2 separate regions of the Homo sapiens genome follow, and region 2 is linked to region 1. The links come from fine-mapping of genetic effects on gene expression. Tissue or cell type: whole blood. Region 1 holds a variant in brackets; the other region holds the start of a gene. All regions are shown on one strand. Distances are between the middles of the regions.

The links. PIP is the estimated chance that this variant, and not a neighbour inherited with it, causes the effect.
Region 2: it holds the start of MAK, and the variant in region 1 is fine-mapped to the expression of MAK in whole blood (TOPMed, PIP above 0.99).

What each region holds. Positions count from the first base shown.
Region 1 is chr6:10,770,352-10,778,615 of GRCh38, reverse strand. It overlaps MAK (male germ cell associated kinase), which reads left to right. Exons shown (of 15, transcript NM_001242957.3): 12 at 3,157-3,288; 13 at 5,508-5,582. Among named protein-coding and RNA genes, the nearest start is that of TMEM14B, 27 kb to the right of the region's middle. The variant A/G (reference allele first, on the strand shown) is at 3,913.
Region 2 is chr6:10,835,329-10,843,328 of GRCh38, reverse strand. MAK (male germ cell associated kinase) reads left to right here and starts at 4,790. Exons shown (of 15, transcript NM_001242957.3): 1 at 4,790-4,826. RefSeq lists enhancers at 4,108-4,267, 4,318-4,377 and a silencer at 4,598-4,727.

The sequences.
Region 1 (8,264 bases):
TGAGTTCTTTCCCATCTCAGGTCCTCTGCCCAAACTGTTGCCTCTTCAAGGATCGCACCTCCCCACCCCTTAAAACACATTTATGCCTAGTGTTCCATTATTGGAACGCTAAGCATGTGGGAGTTGTATCCTACTGCTGAAGGTCATCGCCAAGGTCTGATTGCAAAATTTCAAAAAATTGCAACCTCAGGCATAAATGAGGGTTAATCATGATTCACATTTCAGCTTAAAATTGCTTATTTGAAAGAAAGACTGGCTGAGTTGCTTCTGTTATTTGCCCCCTCCACCCCAGATTCTTCTAAACATGATGCACCCTGCTCATTATGTATTTACTTAGTTATGACTAAAACTGTCTCCCTTCTCATTAGATTCTAAGAGCCAAAGAGTAGAAACTGGTCTATTTTGTTTAGCACTTTTTCTCCAATGCCACGCACTGCCTGGCACTGGTAGGTGCTCAGTAAATATTTGCTAACTGACTTTTTTATGTCCTTTGAGGCAAGTGATTATCATCATGTAATGACATCTATCATTATAATATCAAATTAATTTATGCTTCTTCCTAACAGTGTTTGGTTTGTAGGAGGTACCCAGTGAAAACTTATAAACAAATAAATAACAAAATTCTAGGATATATCTATTTCCAACAAAATTGGAATCTTTATCTTAAATAGACCTTGAGGCCAGGCGAGGTGGCTCATACCTGTAATCCCAGCACTTTGGGAGGCTGAGGCAGGCGGATCACCTGAGGTTGGGAGTCCGAGACTAGCCTGACCAACATGGAGAAACCCTGTCTCTACTAAAAATACAAAATTAGCCGGGCGTGATGGCGCATGCCTGTAATCCCAGCTACTCAGGAGGCTGAGGCAAGAGAATCACTTGAACCTGGGAGGTGGAGGTTTTGGTGAGCTGAGATCACGCCATTGCACTCCAGCCTGGGCAACAATAGCAAAAGTCTGTCTCAAAACAAAAGAAAACAAAACAAACCTTGAATTAAACTAGTTATCTTCAATAATTTACTTACCTTTTACTTTAAAATACTTAAAAAAAAAGCCTATTTAGGAATATTGCCAAGGCCAACTGGATTAACAACATCATTTAAATATTCAGAACTCATTCTTTGTTATGACAACTGTGTTCACACAGATTTTTAATGTTTTACCCCTACCTTGCACTTCCTTTTTGGGTAAATACATTTTTTTTTTTTTTTGTGACAGTCTTGCTCTGTAGACCAGGCTGGATGCAGTGGCACAGTCTCAGCTCATTGCAACTTCCACAACTTGGGTTCAAGTGATTCTCGTGCCTCAGCCTCCCAAGTAGCTGGAATTACAGGCAGGCACCACCACACCCAGCTAATTTTTTTTGTATTCTTTTAGTAGAGACAGGGTCTCACCATGTTGGCCAGGCTTGTCTCGAACTCCTGACCTCAGGTGATCCACCTCCCTCAGCCTCCCAAAGTGCTGGGATTACAGGCATGAGCCACTGTGCCTGGCCTAAAGATGTTTTAATATGAGTAATTGCCACCAAGTGCATCTTTATGGTTAGGTAGTTGCCTTTTTTTTTTTTCTTTTGAAATGGAGTCTCACTCTGTTGCCCAGGCTAGAGTGCAGTGGTGCGATCTCGGGCTCACCACAACCTCTGCCTCCCAGGTTCAAGCGATTCTCCTGTCTCATGCCTGGCTAATTTTTGTGTTTTTAGTAGAGATGGGGTTTCACTATGTTGGCCAAGCTGGTCTCAAACTCCTGACCTCGTGATCCGCCCGCCTCGGCCTCCCAAAGTGCTGGGATTACAGGCATGAGCCACCGCACCCAGCTGGTAGTTGCCTATAATAGTTCGATTTGTAGGTGTTTTATTAGGGAAGTTATATCCTATAAAGAAAGGGAAATTACTTGCCTGATGAAGTGTTTCCTTAGAGAACTGATAATGGGTAACTTTTGAGGTGCAGTATTTCTGGTTTCAAAATAAGGGATATTATTATATATCTCATACATATGAAACCTTTCTAAGGAATCCAGCTCGCGGAAAGCAAAAGCTCAACTGCCTGGAGACAGTTCTGACTTCCTAAATCAGTGGAGTCCTCAGTGATGATTTCTACACTAGATAAAGAAAACTCTCCGTGAATGACCAAAAGGCATAGACTGCTCAAGTTCACTCTAATTTAATTATCAGTGAAAAGAAAACAAGCTCAAGAAGTTTTCAGTCTCTTAAGAACAGGTTGAAACAACTCCCTTTGACCACTAGTATCACGGCCCAAGGCTGAATGGACATTTCACAGATTTCAGAAAATCATAAGTAATTTAAACTGTTCTTTTTCCAAGTACATTTGCAATGACTTCTTTCTGGCGCACAGGGGATAAACTGTTTCCATTTTACTGTATCTCATATACAAATAAGCGTTTCAGGTGGAGCTTCATACCTCCGAACTTCAAAGGTTTTCCTGAGTTCTTAGTCACGTGTCTGTTTTCCCTGCTACACCAAGGGTTGGGCCAAGAATATACGCTCAAAACAAGTGACATGAAAATGTCATGTTGGGTCGGGTGTGGTGGCTTACACCTGTAATCTCAGCACTTTGGGAGGCCAAGGTGAACGGATCACTTGAGGCCAGGAGTTTGAGACAGCCTGGCCAACATGGTGAAATCCCCTCTCTACTAAAAATACAAAAATTAGCCAAGCATGGTGGTGGGTGCCTGTAATCCCAGCTACTCGGGAGGCTGAGACACAAGAATCACTTGAACCTGGGAGGTGGAGGCTGCAGTGAGCCAAGATCACACCATGGCACTCCAGCCTGGACGACAGAGAGAGACCCTGTCTCAAAACAAAACAAAACAAAACAAAAAAAACGTCGTGTTGTTGAAGAAAAATTTTTGTGCCATCTCAATTTTTACAAGACCCTTAGCAAGAACATCAAGTGTTATTATTATATTGTAGAAAATATCTTCTGCCTATAAAGTACACTGTCAACATTCCAGGTGGTTGTGCTAAGGGCTTGGTATCATGTTAGGGTTCATCAGAAAGCAAGTATCTGCTACATTTTCACCTAGATTTATTTCCATTCTCCTGTCCAAGGTGTCTCTAGTCTTTGTTTGAATGTATTACATAAGTTTCCTTTAAGTTTATGATCTGCTCTAACCTTTGAAGTGGTTGTTTTGTTCTTCTCAGGTGTGAATCCCAAGAAGGTGTCCTTGATAGCCAGTGGAAAGGAAATAAACCCCCACACTTGGAGCAACCAGTTATTCCCCAAGTCACTGGGACCCGTTGGGGCAGAACTTGCTTTCAAAAGGAGCAATGCAGGTAACGCAAGAATACAAAATGTACATGTACGGGGTTTTCCTTTATAGAGGTCTACTTTTAAATATATTGCAGTGCTCTTCCAACCAAGATACATGTGCACTTGGGAGATACACAAAGGTTTTCCACTACACTCTGCCTATGGGTAGCCCTGCTCTGCTGGAGCAGTCATGGAGTTGTAACACTGCCTCTTCAATAAAACTGTTTGTAGCTGGATGAGCATGGTGGTTCACACCTGTAATCCCAGCACTTTGGGAGGCGGAGGTGGGCAGGTCCCTTGAGCCTAGGAGTTCGAGATCAACCTGGCCAACATGGTGGAACTGTGCCTCTATATTAAAAAGTACAATAATAAAAAAAAGGTTTTCCCACTAATTCTTGAGTACAGCTAGTTTTAAGGGAATTCTCGACCTCCATCTGAATCTTTCCTGAAATGGGTCTGCCCTAGCAAGGAGTTTCTATTCTGAAAAGAAGACTTCTCACTGGCTACCATGGTGTGTTTTCTTTTTCCCCAAAATGTAAAAATATCTGGGGTGCCAATGAAATGGAAATTCTGGTATGTTGATGTCACTGTTGAGAAAGTAAGTAACTTTGATTTGATGACTGAGGAACAGGTCCTTTTTAAAGTCA[A/G]GGAGTCTTAACAGTTCTCAGCATTTAGAAAATTGAAGGAGGACCTACTTGAATTGTTAGCTGACAGGTAATTTAAAAAGTTTTTTTAATTTTTTTTTATGAGATCAGTATATGAATTTTGGTCTGTAATTTTGAAGAGCGTTTGAAGAATAGAGTGGCAAAGCTATCACAAAACCGCTTTTGTTCCCAACTATCTATTTGTATTAGCAAGATTTCTTAATGCTTCTGTCTCCAAAAAGGAAGAAAAAAGAAAAGAGAGAGAAAATAGCCCTGATGCTGTGATTCCAGCAATAAATATTCATTTGTTGATACATGAACTACTTGAAAATAACCCCACCTTTCTCATTAAGAGATGTGTTTGCAAAAAACTTAATTTTCGTGTTTAGTAATCAAAATATATAATACTCAACTTTTTTGATTAATTATATACAATGAATCATTGTAATTATAACTTTGTACAGTATGTTAATATCCTTATGGTTACAAGAAATTAAAAAAAGTTTTAATTTACACATATTTTAGAGTGACCAATTTTAGACTTTTAAGCCTAAGATTACATTTGGATAAAATTTGGAAGCTGAGGTATAAATAAAGATATAATTTTAAGGGAAAAAAGAATTAATGTGAAATGTCCAAGCATCAAAAAGGAACTTGTTCATGTATTTTTATGTCAATATTGGAGGACATAAAATCACTAATAGTTTTGGCCAGGTGCAGTGGCCCACTCCTGTAATCCCAGCACTTTGGGAGGCCGAGGTGGGCGAATCACAAGGTCCGGAGTTCGAGACCCGCCTGACCAACATGGTGAAACCCTGTCTCTACTAAAAATACACACACACAAAAAAAAATCCAGGCATGGTGGCATGCGCCTATAAATCCAGCTGCTCAGGAGACTGAGACAGGAGAATCGCTTGAACCCAGGAAGTGGAGGTTGCAGTGAGCCGAGATCACACCACTGCACTCCAGCCTGGGCGACAGAGCGAGATTCTGTCTCAAAAAAAAAAAAAAAAAAATCACTAATAGTTTTATTTTTTAAATGCCTATAGTTACAATATGTCAGAAATAACATCCTTTGCAACTGTTAAACTTATGATTAAAAATTTTAAATATCAACTTAAAAGTGTGTGAAGAGGTACAGTTTGTTTTTTAATGTAGGTGATATTGGATCAAAAAACTTTGACAATTACCATTATAAGTGAGTAGTTTAGTGAGATATTCTGATGTGACATCAATATATTTGGGCTTTTTACAAGTTTTCCAGATTCTTTAAAAACTCAGTTTATCCATTTAATGTCGCTGCGGTGTCATACACTGCAGCACTGTAATTTACTTATTTTTTCTTCAGATAATTAAAATTAATATTCACTGAACCAACCAGTTACACAAATTCAATTAAATGACAGTAGAACAACTTTGAGTCTCAAGGGAATATACAGTTGGCATCAAATAAATGCTGTGACAACAATGGGGACATTTTTGCATTTTTAAGGGCTCTTTCTGGATCTTTTCATTAATCATCTAATCCATTTTTTCTCTGCTTTTCCTATAACATTCTCCTTACTATTATTCTTTCTTTCCATCTGTCTTCTCTTTAGAAGAAAGCATAATTAAACCAATCGAAAAACTATCATGCAATGAAACTTTTCCTGAAAAATTAGAGGACCCACAAGGTAATTTCTGGGCGTCAGATGAATGCAGTTTGTTCTTTGAATCTCTTGTCTGATTTTCTTCTCAACATTTGCCCCTAATCCTGACATAAAAGGCCGAGATGATCCGCTTTGAGAAGTCAGATCAGGACTAAGATAAAGAAAAGCATTCTGTCTCATCAAGAATATCTTCCTTCAGTAACTGAGATTTTAAGATGAATATGCTCTCAAAAAGCTCTGTGCTGGTCTTCTTAAATTAATTACGGAAATTTATAGAGGAAATCAAGCAAATAATTCTAATGAAAAGAATCAAAAGAGTATTTTCTAATTTTGCGATCTATATTCCTGGAATTTTTTTTTCAAAGTTCTGAAACTCATTTCTTAAGCATGAACAACCACTTTTTTAAAAAGGTTAGGCTGGGCGCGGTGGCTCACACCTGAAATCCCAGCACTTCAGGAGGCCGAGCCGGGCAGATCATGAGATCAAGAGATAGAGACCATCCTGGCCAACATGATGAAACCCGTGTCTCTACTAAAAATACAAAAATTAGCTGTGTGTGGTGGCATGCACCTGTAATCCCAGCTACTCAGGAGGCTGAGGCAGGAGAATCGCTTGAACCCGGGAGGCGGAGGTTGCAGTGAACCAAGATTGCGCCACTGCACTCCAGCCTGGCAACAGAGCAAGACTCCATCTCAAATAAATAAATAAAAATTAAAAAAAAAAAAAGGTTAACTGGGTTAATAGAGATGGTGGATTTCCTAGGGGTTCAGTGTTACTGGTTTCAACAGTGCTAACAACTGGCTGCAATCTGAAAATTCACAGCATACAAGGTACTTCAAATAATAAGCCAAAATAATTTAAGAAGACTTAATTTTCTGTTCATGTTTTTTCCCTAACAACTTCTTTCTCCAATAAGAAGCATCATAATGCATGAATCCTAGAGTCTGATATATCCCATTTTGTCACTCACCAGCTTTTGTGGTTTGGGACAAGTTGTTTAAGCCAGCTTTCCCGTCCATAAAACGGACGAAATTTCCTTAGGTATTCTTACATAACCCTACCTGGAATTTTAACACATGCTAAGCATTTAATAAGTGTTTGCTCTGCTGATGAGGATGAGAGCAAGAGACATGACTGAAGCTGCTAGTGAATGCAATCACTGCTTTGAATTTCCTTCCGAAAATTTTTCTGAAGTAAAGAACTGATTAGTGTTTCAGAATGAGTTTCTGAGATGGGAAAAAGGTTAAAGTAGGCAGCTGAACTTACACAAAATTCAGTAGGGTTAAACATGTATAGACTGAGAGCATGTGCTCACTGTATGTAACCCTTTAGGGGCTGATAACATAATATTGCGCTTTGACATTTGTTGCTTCAAGAGCAGACACCTGTTGAAGCCTGATATGCCGTGAGAGACAACGGACACAGAGCCCAGTGTCGAGACGTGTAAACAGATAACGCTATAGAGAAAACACTGTTTACTGAACAGTGCTTTGAAACCACGAGGGTGATCAGAGCCCCATTTCGCCTTCTAGAGATAAACCTGTCTCCCTTCCTGCAGAGCTAGCTCCTCCTATTGCTTCTGGTTGTCGTTTGTCTTCAGTCTGCTTCCTGCCAGTGCAGCAGCTCCTGCTAGATCTTGACATCCTAGTGGCCAGATCCCAGGGGCGGTGCTGGTCCTATCCGAGCTCTCTGCCTCATCTCCCATTCCTTTTTTCCACACTCAGTGTGTATTCTCTTGGATTTCCATACCCTGTTCCTCCTACCATCCACCTCTCTACCTGTTCTCTTCCTCCATGAGGTCCTTTTCTCTCCTGTCCCTTAATGCTGGTGTTCCTTGGGGGTCTACTCCAGGTCTCTGCACATTCGCAGTGCCTCTGAGCTGGCTCCTTCAGCCCACAACTCTGTAACCACCACACCCTGATCATCACCAATCTCCACGCCTGCCCACTTGCCCTCTGCCTGCCACAACATGAATGTCCTCTGGGTACCATGTCTTTCCCCCAATCCTGATTCTCCTCCTATGTTGCTATTCATGGACAACGCACCCCCCAGTCACCTGAGCTGCAAACTTAGGAGTTTATATTTCCCTCTTTCCCTACCACCTCCACCCCGTGAACCTGCTTAGTTCCCTTCTTCTTCACCCTCTGCCACTGCTGTGGTTCAGACCCTCATCCTCCCTCATTTCAGCTCTTAGCAGTGACTTCCTCACTGGTCTCCAGACTTTAGATTTTTCCTCATCAATGCATCCCTATGCTAACGCCAGATTGAGCATTCACCAATAGTGATGATGATGATGGTGTTGATAATGATGGCAATTATGCTAGCTGACGTTTAATGCGTACAGATTCTATGCCACGTGCTCTGAAGAGTCTCATCAATCCCTACAACAACCCTACGAGAATAGGTCCACTTACAACCATTTTACAGAATGAAGACAGACACAGAGAGCACTTCAGAGATAGGGGCTTCGCAGTGGGAAATACACCCCCATGTGAAGAAGTGGGGTCGTGAGAAAGCCTGGCGTGTTCAGGGTGAACTGAACACCCCTGGGCCTTGAGTTCAGACCCCAGCTCAGTCTCTTACTAACTGTGAGAAGTTAGGCAAGTTACTCAACATTGGAGAGCCACACGATATGGATACTAATATGATCTAAGCGGGCTGTTGTATGGATGGAATAAGAATATCTGTAACAAGTGCAGCTCAGT
Region 2 (8,000 bases), 65 kb before region 1:
TCCTGGCTAACAAAGTGAAACCCCGTCTCTACTAAAAATACAAAAATTTAGCTGGGCGTGGTGGCGGGCACCTGTAGTCCCAGCTACTCGGGAGGCTGAGGCAGGAGAATGGCGTGAACCCAGGAGACCGAGCTTGCAGTGACCCGAGATCGTACCATTGCACTCCAGCCTGGGTGACACAGCAAGACCCCGTCAAAAAAAATAAATTAAAACAAAAACAAAAAGCAAGTGCAACATTTTACCACGAACAGACCTACTGTAAAGGAACTTCTAAAGGCTATACTTTAGGATGAAGGAAGGTAATCCCAGGAGGAAGGTCTGAGGTACAGAAAGATAAGATGAGCAAAGACATCATCACATGTATCAATGTACAAATACTCTGAATGTAAAATAACAGACCAATCTATAGGGTTATAAATATAAACTAAAATATTAGATGACATTAGCACATAAATTGAATGGGTAATCTGAATTAAAGAATTATAAAGTCCTTGTAGTGCTCAGTGGCTTGGTGAAATAGGATCTTTAACCTTTGCTGGGTGTGCATGATACATTTTAAGACTACCTTGGACTTTCCTTGCCCCAGTCATGGAATCAGCCACTTCTCCAAGGAGTTCTGTTTCCTTTAAGTAAATAATAGTATTACAAAACCGGGACTTGGGTGTTAATCTGTTCACTGTTACTGTAGTGTCATTGTTTCTAGATCCTTTCAGTGAACAGAGCTAGGAAGCACTTTTTAGTAAGTCATGTGTTAATCTTGCTACCTCCAAGTCAAAACTGACACCACAGATTCTTCCTCTTCTTTCTCCATTCTACATCTTTATCTCTCTTCTCCCAAATAAGAACTCTGATTTTCAACAGTATCAATATTTGCTTGATTCTACCATATAGATAAATTTTACTAGAACTGCAGCTGGCCAGGCATGGTGGCTCATGCCTGTAATCCCAGCACTTTGGGAGGCCGAGGTGGGTGGATCAGCTGAGGTCAGGAGTTCAAGATCAACCTGACCAATATGGTGAAACCCCATCTCTACTAAAAATACAAAAATTAGATGGGCACGGTGGTGTGTGCCTGTAGTCCCAGCTACTCGGGAGGCTGAGGCAGGAGAATTGCTTGAACTCGGGAGGTGGAGGTTGCAGAGAGCCGAGATCACACCACTGCACTCCAGCCTGGGCGACAGAGTGAAACCCCATCTCAAACAAAAAAAAGAACTACTGTAGCAATGCATTATCAACAACAAATCTACTTCTTAGAATTTATTTAGACCCATGTTAGACTTTATTTTATCCATCGTATCTCTTAATTTCTCATTAGTATTTCTCATCTTCTTATCTTTTATATGCTATATTCTAGGTACTTTCTGCAGATTTTGTGCCAATTCCCTAATTCTTTCTTTTGTTCTAATATAACATGTAACTCATTTTTAAAGTTTCAATAGTTACGTTTCTTTCTAACAGTTTATTTAATTCTTTTTCTAATATTCCTGATTGATTTCTGTTCATTTTTGCTATTCCTTCTTCTATTTCTGTATATATTTCATACATAGCTATTTTGTATTCAAGCTGATTTTTCCAATTTCAGAAATCCTGGAAAGTCTGAATAATTGTTGCTTTTTCTAGATTCTCATTTGACGGTGTTCATTCCTCTGTGGTCATGAGCTCATATTTTTTGAAAAACCTAGAGGCCTAAGTTGAGGATGCCTTCTTCAGAGATGATTGTGTTTGTTTCCTTTGGGATCCAGATGATGCTCCTGACCTGGGACCACTTTGACCCCTTCTAAGCTCCCCTGGTTGATTTTCTAGTCCCTGGTCCAGCTCAGCCCTATTGCCACGGGTCCAAGGCTTCGTCAGCTGGTTGAAATGCTGAAATGGGATTTGCCTTTGGGCCACCTTTGCCTTTCAGGTACGTTCACTGCTCTGCTCAGATATTAGGTACTTTTTAGAAGGGGTTAGGAGTGCTTGGAGAATTTTTATTCTTCTATTGTGAAACGTGACAAAAAATATGTTTTGTGCATGCTCTACTTGTTTTAAAACAGAAGAGTTCTTCAGAAGGAATAAATGCTGTTTGTCCTCTTTTTGTTTTCTCTCTCTTTCCTTCCTTCCTTTCTCTTTCTCTTTCTTTTGGGAAACCTACCTTTCCTCATTCTGAAATATCATTTTTCTGAGGGATCTCCTACTACTTCCCTGACTTTTCTTTTTTCAGTCTGTCTCTTCCTCACCCCTACTCTTTCTTTCTCCACTCTTTAGAGGATGGAGTTTTCCAGAATCCCATCCCTTCTTTCTTCTTACTGTTTATTTCATCTATATCCATGATTTCATCCACAGTATCCCAACATATCTGTATTTCTAGCTCTAAAAGAACCCTAAGTTGCAAATCTATATTACAAACTCCCTTCTTGTAATCTGCATAAGGATTTTTCTCAATTCAAAAATTTCAAAACTGGGCTTGTTATCTCTCACATCCTCCATCCCTAAATCAGCTCCTCCTCTATTATTTTCCAACTTGGTCATGGATACCACTATCCACCAGTCATCTAAGCCTGATGGTCCTGCCGATTTTAACTCCTAAACATCCCTTGAATTCTGTCTTTCTCTGTCCTATTTCCATCATCACTGCTAGAGTTGGATCCTTATCATTTCTTCCCAGTCAGTTGGGAGAAAGACTCCCAATCTTTCTCTTGCCTCCAGACTTGCAGCTCAAATCCACCCTACCCACTGCTCCTCTTGGGATCTTTCTGAAATGCAAATGTGAACATGTCACTCTTCTGTGGGAGATTCTTCACTGGTCTTCCTCATTGACACATGTTAAAGCTTAGGCTTCATAACTGGGTATATAAAGCTGCTATGACCTATCTAACTTATGCTTTTTACTTTGCCTGCCTACTTCACTTATTTATTGGAGAGCAATGAATCTTTTATTTATTATTATTATTATTGAGACGGAGTTTTGCTTTTGCTGCCCAGGCTGGAGTGCAATGGTGTGATCTCAGCTCACTGCAACCTCCGCCTCCTGGGTTCAAGCTATTCTCCTACCTCAGCCTCCCAAGTAGCTGGGATTACAGGCATGCGCCACCACGCCTGGCTAATTTTTTGTAGTTTTAGCATTTTAGTAGAGATGGGGTTTCTCCAGGTTGGTCAGACTGGTCTCAAACTCCCGACCTCAGGTGATCCGCCCACCTCGGCCTCCCAAAGTGCTGGGATTACAGGCATGAGCCACCGCGCCTGGCCATTTATTATTATTATTATTTTGAGACAGAGTCTTGCTCAGTCACCCAGGCTGGAGTGCAGTGGCACGTTCTCCGCTCACTGCAACCTCTGCCTCCTGGGTTCAAGTGATTCTCCTGCCTCAGCCTCCCGAGTAGCTGGGATTACAGGCATGTGCCACCACACCCAGATATTTTTTGTATTTTTAGTAGAGATGGGGTTTCACCATGTTGGCCAGGCTGGTCTTGAACTCCTGACCTCAGGTGAGCCACTCACCTGGGCCTCCCAAAGTGCTGGGATTACAGGCATGAGCCACTGAGCCCCGTCTGTTTTTAAATGTTTATTTCAATAGCTCTTGGGGTACAAGTGGTTTTTTGTTACATAGATGAATTATATAGTGGTGAATTCTGAGATTTTAGTGCACCCATCATCTGAGTAGTGTATATGGTACCTAGTGCATAGTTTTTTTTATCCCTAGGCTCTCTCCCATCCTCCCCTTTCTGAGTCTCCAAAGTCCATTATTTCACTGTGTATGCCTTTGCATACTCATAGCTTGGCTTTTGCTTATAAGTGAGAACATACAGTTTTTGGTTTTCCACGCCTGTATTACTTTGCGTAGAATAAGGACCTCCCACTCTTCCAAGTTGTTGCAAAAGACATTATTTCATTCTTTTTTTGTGACTGAGTAGCAGCCTATGGTGTATATATACCACATTTTCTTTATCCACTCATTAGTCAATGGGCACTTAGATTGGTTCCACATCTTTGCAATTGTGAATTGTGCTGCCATAAACATACGCGTGAAAGCCTACTTCACTTTAAGCTGTGAGGGCCACAGGCATGTCTGTCGTGTCTACCTTGGCGCTATTCTTGGTCCCAAGCCCACATCCTGACACCTAATAATTACTAACTTGCCGCACCACTGCTTCATCACTTATGTTTCTGTTTCGTAGACCCTTTTTGCCAGCCAATCTGAACTATTTGCAGTAACACAAGTGTGCCTTCCTCTCTAAATTCTAGACTAGTTACAATTTACCCATTTATTCACACATTCAGTCATTTTTCTTGGAATTACCACTATCTAACTCTGTGGCTGATACTAGGCAGGTTCTCTGAATGAATAAATGGAAACAAACTTAGAAGGGCAGCTCAAGAGGTAATACATACCCAAGGAATTGACCAATTTAAGGAACTGCATACAAGAACAGTTTTTCCCCAGGCACAAGTAAACAAGTGCAAGTATGAGGCAAACAGACTTCCTTCTCTTGCTCTGCCCGGTCTGGGAACCATATTTTAATTAATCAAGACTTTGTAGAATGAATCGGAACAAAACCAAAACAAAATAAAGGGCAAACAAACCAACTTCTGACAAAGACCTGACTGAAAAGGTAATCAACTCCCCTAAACCCCAAGTCTAAATGGCACACTTGCTGCAGCTCAGCCGACAGTCCCCCGGCTCCATGAAGCCCCGCCCCGGGGAAGGCGGGGCCTGCGGGAATTGGCGGGGATTTCCCGCGAGGCCACGCCCTCTCTGGGCCGGCCGTAGGCCCGCCTGCTGCCCCCGCCGTTTCCTAGGAGATGAAACACACAAGACGCCGGAGCTTCACAAGGGAGCGAACGAGGTAAGCAGCAGGCGCGGACAGGTAATCCCCAGCGGGCTGCAGGGCCACCACCCTCTGTCCGACCCAGCCGGAGCCCGACCTGCGAGGCTGGCCGGGCATGTCCCCTCGGCGCCCTGTGCTACCAGGGCCAATCTCCGCCCGGAGACCGGTCCCTGACGCCGGTAGGGGAAGGACTGGAGGGAGGAGGGTCCCCGGAGGGGCGGAGCGGGCGGGAGTGGTCAGCCCGAGGGAAGGCGGTCGGTGTCTCCCAGACCTCTTGACCACTTTCCCGCCTCCTGGACCGCGGGGGCCGGCCTGGCGTGGGAGGATGACGGCCGGGCGTCCCTTAGCCTGAGACCCCCGCCCCTAAACTCTCCTCCGGGATCTCCCACCTCTGCTCCCCTGCTGCTTGGGCTGGCGGTGGAAACTGTTTTTAGGACAGAGAGGCAGGATTGGGTCTCAGGGAGGCAGCGGAACTGAGTTCAGAACTGTTGCAAAATCTAAAAGGAGGGAGAAAAACAGGAATTAGGTCCGACTCCAGCCCTCGCTGGTGCATCCCAAAGGACGCTCAGGTGAAAGTGGAATTCCGCACACCCCCGTCCCCCCCAACGGCGCCGGACTCCCGGCGCCCGGGGACGCCCCCTCCTTCCACCACGCGGTCCCTGGAGCCTTTTAAGAGCCCTGGTTTGCAGAGTCGGATCAGAAAGTGTGTGACGAAAACTGTCCCTTTTCTGCAAGTAATCCGTTTTAATTTAGGGACAGGTCGAGAGTGCGGTGTCGAGAGCAATAAAACTGGTTTTTAGTGGTTAGTAATCTCAATCCTACAAGGAAAGAGCTGTATGCAAATGTGGTTAGATAATCGTTTAAAAGAAACAGACATTTGTTCTAATGATAACGGAATTCTCAAAGAGGGAAGCCAAAGTTATCTGACTTTATTTATTCAGAAACACAACCCATTAAGTGAAATAATGGTGAAAACAAAAGTGACTTTCCAGCTTTTCGATCGGGCCCCGCCTCCCCGGCCCTTCAATTCCCGAGGCTTGACCGGGAGGGAGAAAGTTCCCCCAACCGCGCCACCGCCTGCTTCCACTGCAGGCACCGGGCAGGACGTTTAATCTCTTCGTCGGGGTGGACTTTTTTTGTGTATAAGCTTTGAAATAATTTGTGAATATGAGCACAGAGAACTGTGCTTTTATATTTTAAGATACAGTCTTTGTTTTCCCATTGTAATAGCTCATTTAATTTCTGTAAAACTTCGACTTGGTTAGTTTGGGATCTTTTTTTCCTGCGTTGCTTTTTAAAGAGTTTGGTGACTTTTAAAACGTTAATTACTCTTTTGTTGTGTATTAGAAGCGTTAAGCCAGCCTCGGAGTGACATAATATGTTCTAGAAAGCCACGTTGAAGACATCCAAGCCTTATCTCTTCAGTTTTTGGCAGACGCTTGTTTTACCCTTCATTTGCCCTCTTTGCTAATCTTCTTTAATCCTATCTGAATCTCTTATTAGCTGGCAAAAGCTGTTGAGAGTAAAGGCTATATTTACAACAATTGTGCACTTAGAGAAACGGTAATTATGAACTTAGATTAAAAAGTTGAAAACTAGAATGAGAGATAAATTATAAGGGTATTTATTTTTGTGTAGGTCTATAATTAAGCCTCTAAATAAGCATCTTTTTCTTTAACCCATAGGAAGGTCAATAAATGTTATAGCTTGATTGTAGAAAATTCCAAGTTTTTAACAATTCTGTTAAATTGAGGATGATAGTTATATTTACTTGGGTTTTTTGTTGCATATGTATCATATCTATATATATTCATGTACATAAGAAACTGTGTTAATATATTCCTATTTTGTAGATTAGTTTTCCATAGGTCAACAGAGAAGAATATATGTAACTTGTAGAGAAATATTATTGTGCGTGAACTGGAGAACCATGGGAAGCCTGTGTTTAAGGAACATAGACTGCTTTTTGATTAGTAATCAGTAGTTGCTATGCCACATTGATAAAAGTAGTTGCTTATGTGCTATCAGGGAGCAGGGACATGGAATAATGATTTTTTAAAAGCTTTACCTTGATGTCTATGTCTCTACATTAGACAATTGTATGTTCAGGGGATAGAAGGAACAGTTGCAATGATCAGCGTCTCACCCTGGGCAGCTGTTGATTTTGTAATTAATGTAGTTCAAAAGAAGCCTTTCCAAAGTTTTTTCTTAGGGAGCGCAGTATGTAAAGTTGTTTTACTTAAAGGTTAGGTAGGGCTTAAATGGGACAGATCCTCACAGAACCACTAATCTGACCTTTTAAAAATCTATGTCACGTCCGTAATCCTCAACACTCCACCCCTCAAACAGAAAGGAGCTGGGAAATGGTCGTGTTCCTTGCTTATTCTTCCCTCAATATAAGTACACCCTATCCTATAGCCATCATCCGTTGAAAGACAATTGGTGTTGCCGGTGTTTATTCAGAAGTTGATTGGTTAGGCTTGGAATGAAGTTGCCAAAATAGCCACTCGCAAAGAGACTGTGCACGCAGGCTTGGGTCGAAAGTCATCAGTGACTGAATGCTCTATTGTGCTGATAGTGCTGGTGCAGCTTCAGGTCACCCTCCCACCCCAGGGCGGTGGTGATGGGGGTGGCTGATGGCCTTAATAGTGGAAGAGAGAGGTGTAATTAATTCTTAATTTTTAGATTGTTGGGCCAATGAAGGTGATTTTTTTGTCACTCTTTGTGTTTCCACTTCCTGAATAACACTCGCTACCATCATTACCATGCAACCAGAGGCAGCTCCCTCTTCCATTCCCTTCTCAAGTCATATGTCCTTTTTCAGAATTGTCTGCATTACTTTTCTACCTTTTAGACCCTCAAATGCTTGTCCTTGGTTAGGTGTTAACATGAAAATAATTTGGTTAAAAGAAAAGATGATGCTATCATACCATTATGTTTCTGAATTAAATAATTTTCATGGCTGGGCGCAGTGGCTCACGCCTATAAACCCCAGCACTTTGGGAGGCCGAGGCAGGTGGATCACATGAGGTCAGGAGTTCAAGACCAGCCTGGCCAACGTGGTAAAACCCTGTCTCTACTAAAAATACAGAAATTAGCCGGGCATGGTGGCACGCGCCTGTAATCCCAGCTACTCAGGAGGCTGAGGCAGGAGAGTCCCTTGAACCTGGGAGGCGGAGGTTGCAGTGAGCA